2 linked regions of the Homo sapiens genome follow. The protein of the gene in region 2 purifies or fractionates together with the protein of the main gene of each other region. This does not show direct contact. Each region holds a gene or a part of one and is shown on either strand. Other genes may lie near its edges. The genes, in order: TIMM9 and ANKS6.

Region 1 (3,815 bases), on a different chromosome or scaffold from region 2:
AAAAAAAAAAAAAAAAAAGGAAGTGGAGGTAAGGAAGGAAGAAAGGGGAGGGAGAGAGGGAAAGGAGCGTGGGAGGGAGGGAAAGGAGCGTGGGAGGGAGGGAGGGACTTAGGGAAGGAGGGAAGGGAGGGAGGGAGGGAGGGAGGAAGAAAGGAAGGAAGGAAGGTAGGAAGGAAGGAAGGTCTTAAATCAGTAATCCAAGCTCCTCCTACCTCAAGCACCTAAAAAAGAAGAGCAAAATGAACCCAATGAAGGAAATAAAGAGCAGAGATCAATTTAAATGAAAAGAGAAAAAAGAAAGAGCTAGTTCTTTGAAAAGATTAATAAAACTGACAAACCTACTAGCAAGAGAGAAGACACAAATTATACATCAGGAATGAAACAGGGTGTACATTACTACAGGTTTTGCAGACACCAAAAGGATACAGGAATATTACAAACAACTCTACATACATAAACCTGACAACTTCTTTATGAAGTTAGTATTATCCTGATATTAAAACCAGGCAAAGACAGTACAAAAAAGAAAACCATAAAAATATCCCTCATGAAAGATATAAAAAAGTCTATTACTATTAATATTAGCAAATATAATTCAGCAATATATAAAAAGAATTATACAACTTGACCAAGAAGGGTTTATTCCAGGGATGCAAGACTGGTTTAATATTTGAAAATTAATCCGTTTAAGTCCACATATTAATAGACTGAAGAAGAAAAACCAAATGATCATAAACATTGATGCAGAAAAAGTATCTGAAAAAATGCAATACCCATTCATAGCAAAATATCTCAGAAAAAAAGGAAGATCAATTTGATAAACAGCATGTACAAAAAAACCTACAGCCTACACTATACTTAATGGCAAAAGATAATACTTTCCCATAAGATTGTGAGCAAGGACAGATGTCCACTCTCACCACTCTTATCTAACATACTGCTGAAAGTTCTACCCAGTGCAGTGAAGCAAGAAAAGGAAACAGACATAAAGATTGTAAAAGAAAAAACAAAACTGTTCCTGTTTGCATGTAATATAATTATGAACATGCAAAATCGAAAGAATCTACAAATAAACTCCTAGAATTAATTAAGTTCAGCAGTGTCCAGTATACACAATAAGTATATTTAAAAAATCAATTGTATTTCTATATACCATCAATGAACACATGTATACTGAAAGTAAAAATACAATATCATTTACAATTACTCAAAGAAAAAAAAAGATTTAGGGGCAAATCTAACAAAACATGTACGGACTTGTATGTGGAAAACTACCAAATGCTGACAAAAGAAGGCAAAGACCTAAACACACAGAGAGACATACTGTGTGTTCAGAGATCAGAAGACTCAATATAGTAAGAATGCCAATTTTCTTAAGGCTGATATACGGGCTTATTGCAATTTCTATCAAGGTCCTAACAAGATTTCTTATAAATATACACAAATTTATATGGAAATTTATATAAAATTTATATAAAAAGCAAAGGGACCAGAATAGCTAAAACAAATTTGAAAAATGAAGAATAAAGTGAGAGGAATTGGTCTACCTGATTTCAAGACATAAAGAGCCTACAATAATCAATGCTGTGTGCCACTGGTGGAGGGACAGACAAATAGTCAGTGGAACATAACAAAGAATCTAATAACAGATTAACACCAAAAAACCCAACTGGCCAGGTGAGGTGGCTCACACCTGTAATCCCAGCACTTTGGGAGGCCAAGAAGGGAGAATTGCTTGAGCCCAGGAGTTCAAGAACAACCTGGGCAACACAGCGAGACCTTGTCTGTACAAATAATTAAGAAAATTAGCTGGGCATGGTGTCACATGCCTGTAGTCCCAGTTACCTGGGAGTCTGAGGCAGGAGAATCATTTGAGCCTGGGAGGTAGAGGCTGCAGTAAGCCATGGTTGCGCCACTACGCTCCAGTCTGGAAAATAGAGTGAGACCCCGTCACACACACACACACACACACACACACACACACACACACACACACACACACACAAACACATACACACACACACACACAAAAATACACTCCTGCCCAACTGATTTTTGGGAAAAAAAGATGTGAGAACTAAGTTTCTCACCTAATACAAAAATTAACTCAAAATGGATTGGGGGGCCAGGCATGGTGGCTCATGCCTGGAATTCTAGCACTTTGGGAGGCCAAGGTTGGCAGATGGCTTGAGGCCAGGAATTTGAGACCAGCCTGGGTAACATGACAAACCCCGTCTTTACCAAAAATACACACACAAAAAAAATTTTAGCTGGGCATGGTGGCACATACCTGTAGTCCCAGCTACTCAAGAGGCTGAGGTAGGAAGGATGGATTGCGCCCAGGAGGCAGAGGCTGCAGTGAGCCAAGATTGTGCCACTGCACTCCAGCCTGGGTGACAGACCCTCTCTCTAAAAAAAGGATCAGGAATTTAATGTAAAATATAAAACTACTAAAACTTTTATTTATTTTTAATAAACACAGGGTCTCACCATGTTGCCCAGGCTGTCTCAACTCCTGGACTTAAGCAGCCCTCCCATCTCCACCTCCCACAGGGCTGGGATTACAGGCGTAAGCCACCATGATTGGCCAACTACTAAAACTTTTAGAAAAATATTAGAAAATCTGGCTTTAGGGCTAGGCAAAGAGTTCTTATATTTGACATCAAAAACACTATAAGAGGAAAAATTAATAAATTAGACTTCATGAAAATTAAAAATGAAATTAAAAAATTAAAAACTTTTGCTTTATGAAAGAACATTGAGAGGATGAAAAGCTACAGACCAGGAGGAAATATTTGCAAACTACATAACTGACAAAGAACTAATAAGCAGAAGATATAAAGAACTCTCAAACCCCAGCAGTAAAAACACAAACAATCCAATTAGAAAACAAGCAAGAGCCGTAAAAAGGTATTTCAGCAAAAAGGAAATACATATGGCTAATAAGTACCTGAAAAGATGTTCAACATCATTAGCCATTAGGGAAATGCAAATTAAAACCAAAACAAGCTGCTGGGTGCGGTGGCTCACGCCTGTAATCCCAGCACTTTCGGAGGCTGAGGCGGGCAGATCACCTGAGGTCAGGAGTTTGAGACTAGCCTGGCCAACGTGGTGAAACCCCATCTCTACTAAAAATACAAAAGTTAGCCGGGCATGGTGGTGCATGCCTGTGGTCCCAGCTACTCGGGTGGCTGAGGCAAGAGAATTGCTTGAACCCAGGAGGTGGAGGTTGCAGTGAGCCGGGATCACGCCACTGCACTCCAACCTGGGTGACGAGAGCAAAAATCCATCTCAAAAAAAAAAAAAAAAAAAACAAGCTATATACCTATCAGAATGGCTAACATAAAAACAAAACAAAACAAAAAAACAAAAACAGTGGCAATACCAAATGCTAGTGAGGACATGGAAAAACTGAATCACTTACATATTCCTGTTGGGAATGTAAAGAGTTTGGCAGTTTCTAAAGAAGTTATACATTCATCTCCCATATAACCCTGCAATTGCATTCCTGGGCATCTGTCCTAGAGAAATGAAAATTTGTGTTCACAGGAAATCCTATATGTGAATGTTTGTAGAAACTCTATTCTTAATAATCAAAAACTGAAAACCCAAATGTTCTTCAGTGGGTGAATGGTTAAACAAATTGGTACATCTATACCTGTAATACTATTCAGCAATAAAAAGGATGAGGTATTGATACTTGCAAAAGCCTGGAAAATTCTGCTGAGGAAAAAAGCCAATCCTAAAAAGTTAAATACTGTATAATTCCACTTATACAACATTCTTGAAATAACAGAATTGCAGAAATGAAGAAC
Region 2 (3,815 bases):
ATGATCACGCTACTGCACTCCAGTCTGGCAACAAAGTGAGATACTGTTGGAAAGAAAAGAAAAGAAAAGAGAAGGGAAGGAAAAGGAAGGGGAGGGGAGGGGAGGGGGAGGGGAGAGGAGACAAAACCAACAGCTCTGCCCAAAAATCACTGACCCCATGGAGACTCCACTTCTTCCACCCTAAATCAGGACATCTCCATTGGGAAAGTCTCCTACAGACCAAGGTGTCTGAAATAAAATTTCGTCTTGGAATTCAAGACTCATCGAATAAGAAAACAAACTGTTTTCAGATGACACAGGAAAGTGATCTGATCACCTAAAAGAGGGCAAGGAAAGAACCTCTAACTGGGAGTCAGATCACTTAGCAGCTACAAGATGCCCACCCCAAAGACGAGGCCTCCAGGAGGATGACAGCCCATCCTGCTGGGATGATCACATAAGAAGGGGTTCATAAGCACCCTGTAAACACTGAAGCCTATTCAAAAGGAGAGGGGTAGGACACATCTCACCATCAATCATCACAAGACGACAATGGTATGAATAACCAATGTTTACTTCATACAGGAGCTACTTAAGGAGGTCACTATATCTCAATGTGAAAACTCCAATGAATCAGTCACTGTGTTCAACTGAAACCAACCTAGAGAACCTTATCTCTCTGCATAAAATGCTCCTGCTGCATGGTTTTTCAGGGCCATTGTGAAATTCTGTGATGGGGGAACAGGAAATCTGGACACAGAAGGGTGGGACTAAAATGAGCCTGTGCCGCTTTTTTTTTTTTTTTCCATGCCTCAATGTCGTCATAGTCCTGGGGTTTGTATGCAGCATCTCAGGACCAGAAGAGCCCATTGGGAACCTCCATCTCAGGCCAGAGCATCTGTCTGGCCTTGTCGCTGAGGGCGTGGGGCTGGCACTGACCCATGGTAGGTTGCCTGCATGAGGGCCGTCCAGCCATGCACGCTGTCCTGCTTGTCAACATCCGCGTGCCTCTCCACCAGCAGCTGCACCAGAGCCAGCTGCCCCGTAACAGCTGCTAGCATCAGTGGCGTCGCCCCGTCCCCATTGACCAAGTTCACGTGGCTGGGGTCTTCATCGGCAATCTCTTTGACCAGCTGGAAGTTTCCTGCAAACACAAGCAGGAGTCCGGGTGAACTGTGGGCCTGGTACCATAGGCTGATTTCTCCTGTGGTTCATGTAACAAACACTTGCTGGCCCTGCTCTGCCTCTGCAGTGGGCTGCTGGGCATCATAGGGGATACTAAGAGGGCGTCAGAGATAGCCCCGACTCTTAAATGCCTCAGTCTAGGCGAGACAGAGACAAACACACGAATGGGCAGAAGTGTTACCAAAAGACAGAAGTGTTGTTAGTGTCTTCAGAGAACGGATGAAGGAGACAGAAGAAGACAGAAGGAGAGTTCAGGTCTCGCTGCGGGGTGAGGATCGGGAAGGGCTTCCTGGAAGCAGGGTCTATATCAAGAGAGAAAATTTTAGGCTAAATGCCTCTTTGTCACAAAGAGACTGGAGTGGGTATGCAGAGAGGCATTTCAGATGCAGGAAGAGCTAGGGCATAGCTAGACAGTGTTTGGCTGGAGTGGGGCTGGAGGCCGTCTGGAGTCTATGTGTAGAGCTCTACAATAAATACTGGCCTCCAGGATCTGAACTTCCAAACACCAAACACCAAAATGCCTGTTTCTTTCTCAAATACCCTGGGTGGCCCTGCAAAGGACTACAAATATTAGGTTGGGAGAATGTAGCCCTATATTCTTAAATATCCAAAAAGATTTTCTAAAGCGCTTACCCATTTTCAATGCATGGAAAATATCAGGTCGCCTTTTCTCCTCATCTGGGTAAACAAAGATTTTTAAAGTTAACCACGGAAAGGTTTAATATAACAGAAAAGTCACAAGGGTGTAACAACACAGCCTGGCTTTAAAAAGCATCTAATTCTCAAAAGCAATCTAATTGGAGACCTACGTAATGGACAAATCCAGCAGCTCTTCTGGAAGGTTTATTACCCAAGAACATCTGAAAACACTTCAGAGACAGATCTTGCCAACAAAACACGAATGAGCAGCAGATCACGGCCCTGATCTCATGCAAATAAAGCAATCATTTTTAGGCAAAACAAACGTTGGCATATCCTTTCTTAGATATACTGAAAAGTCTTGGGGTCTTAGAAAATCCTGGATTCCCATGGACATTGTTTAAAAATTTTTTTTCTTCTAAAAACTAAATGTACAATCATAATTCCAAATCAGAGGACCCCTGAGATATCGAGCAGCTGAGCTCTAAGGAAGTTCACAGCCACAGCCAACAGAAGAGCCAATGCTCATATTTTCTTTCCCTCCCATGTAAGAAGCAATCAGAACATGCTCCCTCCTCCAAACCTGCAGACACAGCTGGCCAAAAGCCGCTGCCCAACTGGGCATCTTCATGCTGTACCCTGAAGCCCAGCTGCTAGGCTGGGGCCGGACCCCATGCCTACCTGCACAGCTGAGCCTTGCTGCAGCCGCCAGATGTTAGCCCCTCCCTCACATGCTCATCCCACACCTTCCTCCAAGCTTGGGCCAGCAGGTACCCCATTCCTGTCAGAGCAGGCATCCTCATGGCCAGTCTGCTTGCTGGGGGGCTGAAGGCAGGCCTTCTGCAGCCTTTAATTGATCCCAGGGGATGGAGCAGCTGCCAGAGGGCACTTGTGACTCTGGGCTGACTCTGGTCGAAATGAGCCCTCTTGAGTAACTGGGAGGAAGCTGCAGCCCAGGACAAGGAGCACAGAGTGTGGAGTCAGTGCACGTGAATTTCAGCGCACATTTTTAGAGTAAGCTGCCTCTTCATCACAAATGTGGGGATAGCATCCCTCTCACCTGGCTGTTGCAGGGATCAAATGATAATGTTAAGGCGCCATTCAAAGAGCAATTACTTTCTTTAGCAACCAGCAAGGTAAACCCCAGAATTCTTTTTTTGAGATGGAGTCTCGCTCTGTCACCCAGGCTGGAGTGCAGTGGCGTGATCTTGGCTCACTGCAACCTCTGCCTCCTGGGTTCAAGTGACTCTTGTGCCTCAGCCTCCCGAGTAGCTGGGATGACAGGCACACGCCACTACACCCAGCTAATTTTTGTATTTTTAGTAGAGACGGGGTTTTGCCATGTTGGCCAGGCTGGTCTCAAACTCCTGACCTCAAGTGATCTGCTCGCCTTGGCCTCCCAAACTGCTGAGATTGCAGGTGTGAGCCACCGCTCCAGGCCGGAACTCCAGAATTGTTTTTTTTTTTTTTTTGAGATGGAGTCTTGCTGTGTCTCCCAGGCTAGAGGGCAGTGGTGAGATCTAGGCTCACTGCAACCTCTGCCTCCCGGGTTCAAGCGATTCTCCTGCCTCTGCTTCCAGAACAGCTGGGATTACAGGCACCCACCACCGCATCTGGCTAATTTTTGTATTTTTAGTAGAGATGGGGTTTCACCATCTTGGCCAGGTTGGTCTCGAACTCCTGACCTCGTGATTCACCCACCTCCGCCTCCCAAAGTGCTGGGATTACAGGCGTGAGCCACCACACCTGGCCAGAATCCCAGAATTCTTCATGGAAAGTACGGACACTGCCATGGGACACAGTATATCAATTTTGCCTGTGAAATACTATCAAGAAACTATTCTGCACCTGACTTTTAAAAAAAATATGTCATGTTCTTTCAAGTATTCAAGAACCAACTTTGCTGTGGGGTGGGGTCTTCTCATGCCAAGACCTTTTCACAGAAAAGAGTGTCACCTGGTCTTAGTGTTGGCTGCTAAGCAACCATCTGACACAAGTTAATCACTGACAGC

Evidence for each region.
Region 1: the proteins of ANKS6 (region 2) and TIMM9 purify together in Homo sapiens (affinity purification with mass spectrometry; one large-scale study listed by BioGRID and IntAct). This does not show direct contact.

What each region holds. Positions count from the first base shown.
Region 1 is NC_000014.9:58,417,501-58,421,315, forward strand, and holds part of TIMM9 (mitochondrial import inner membrane translocase subunit Tim9), read right to left. Parts: intron 1-3,815. UniProt on the Homo sapiens protein: Mitochondrial intermembrane chaperone that participates in the import and insertion of multi-pass transmembrane proteins into the mitochondrial inner membrane.
Region 2 is NC_000009.12:98,783,035-98,786,849, forward strand, and holds part of ANKS6 (ankyrin repeat and SAM domain-containing protein 6), read right to left. Parts: intron 1,843-3,815; coding exon 1,798-1,842; intron 1,124-1,797; coding exon 919-1,123; intron 1-918.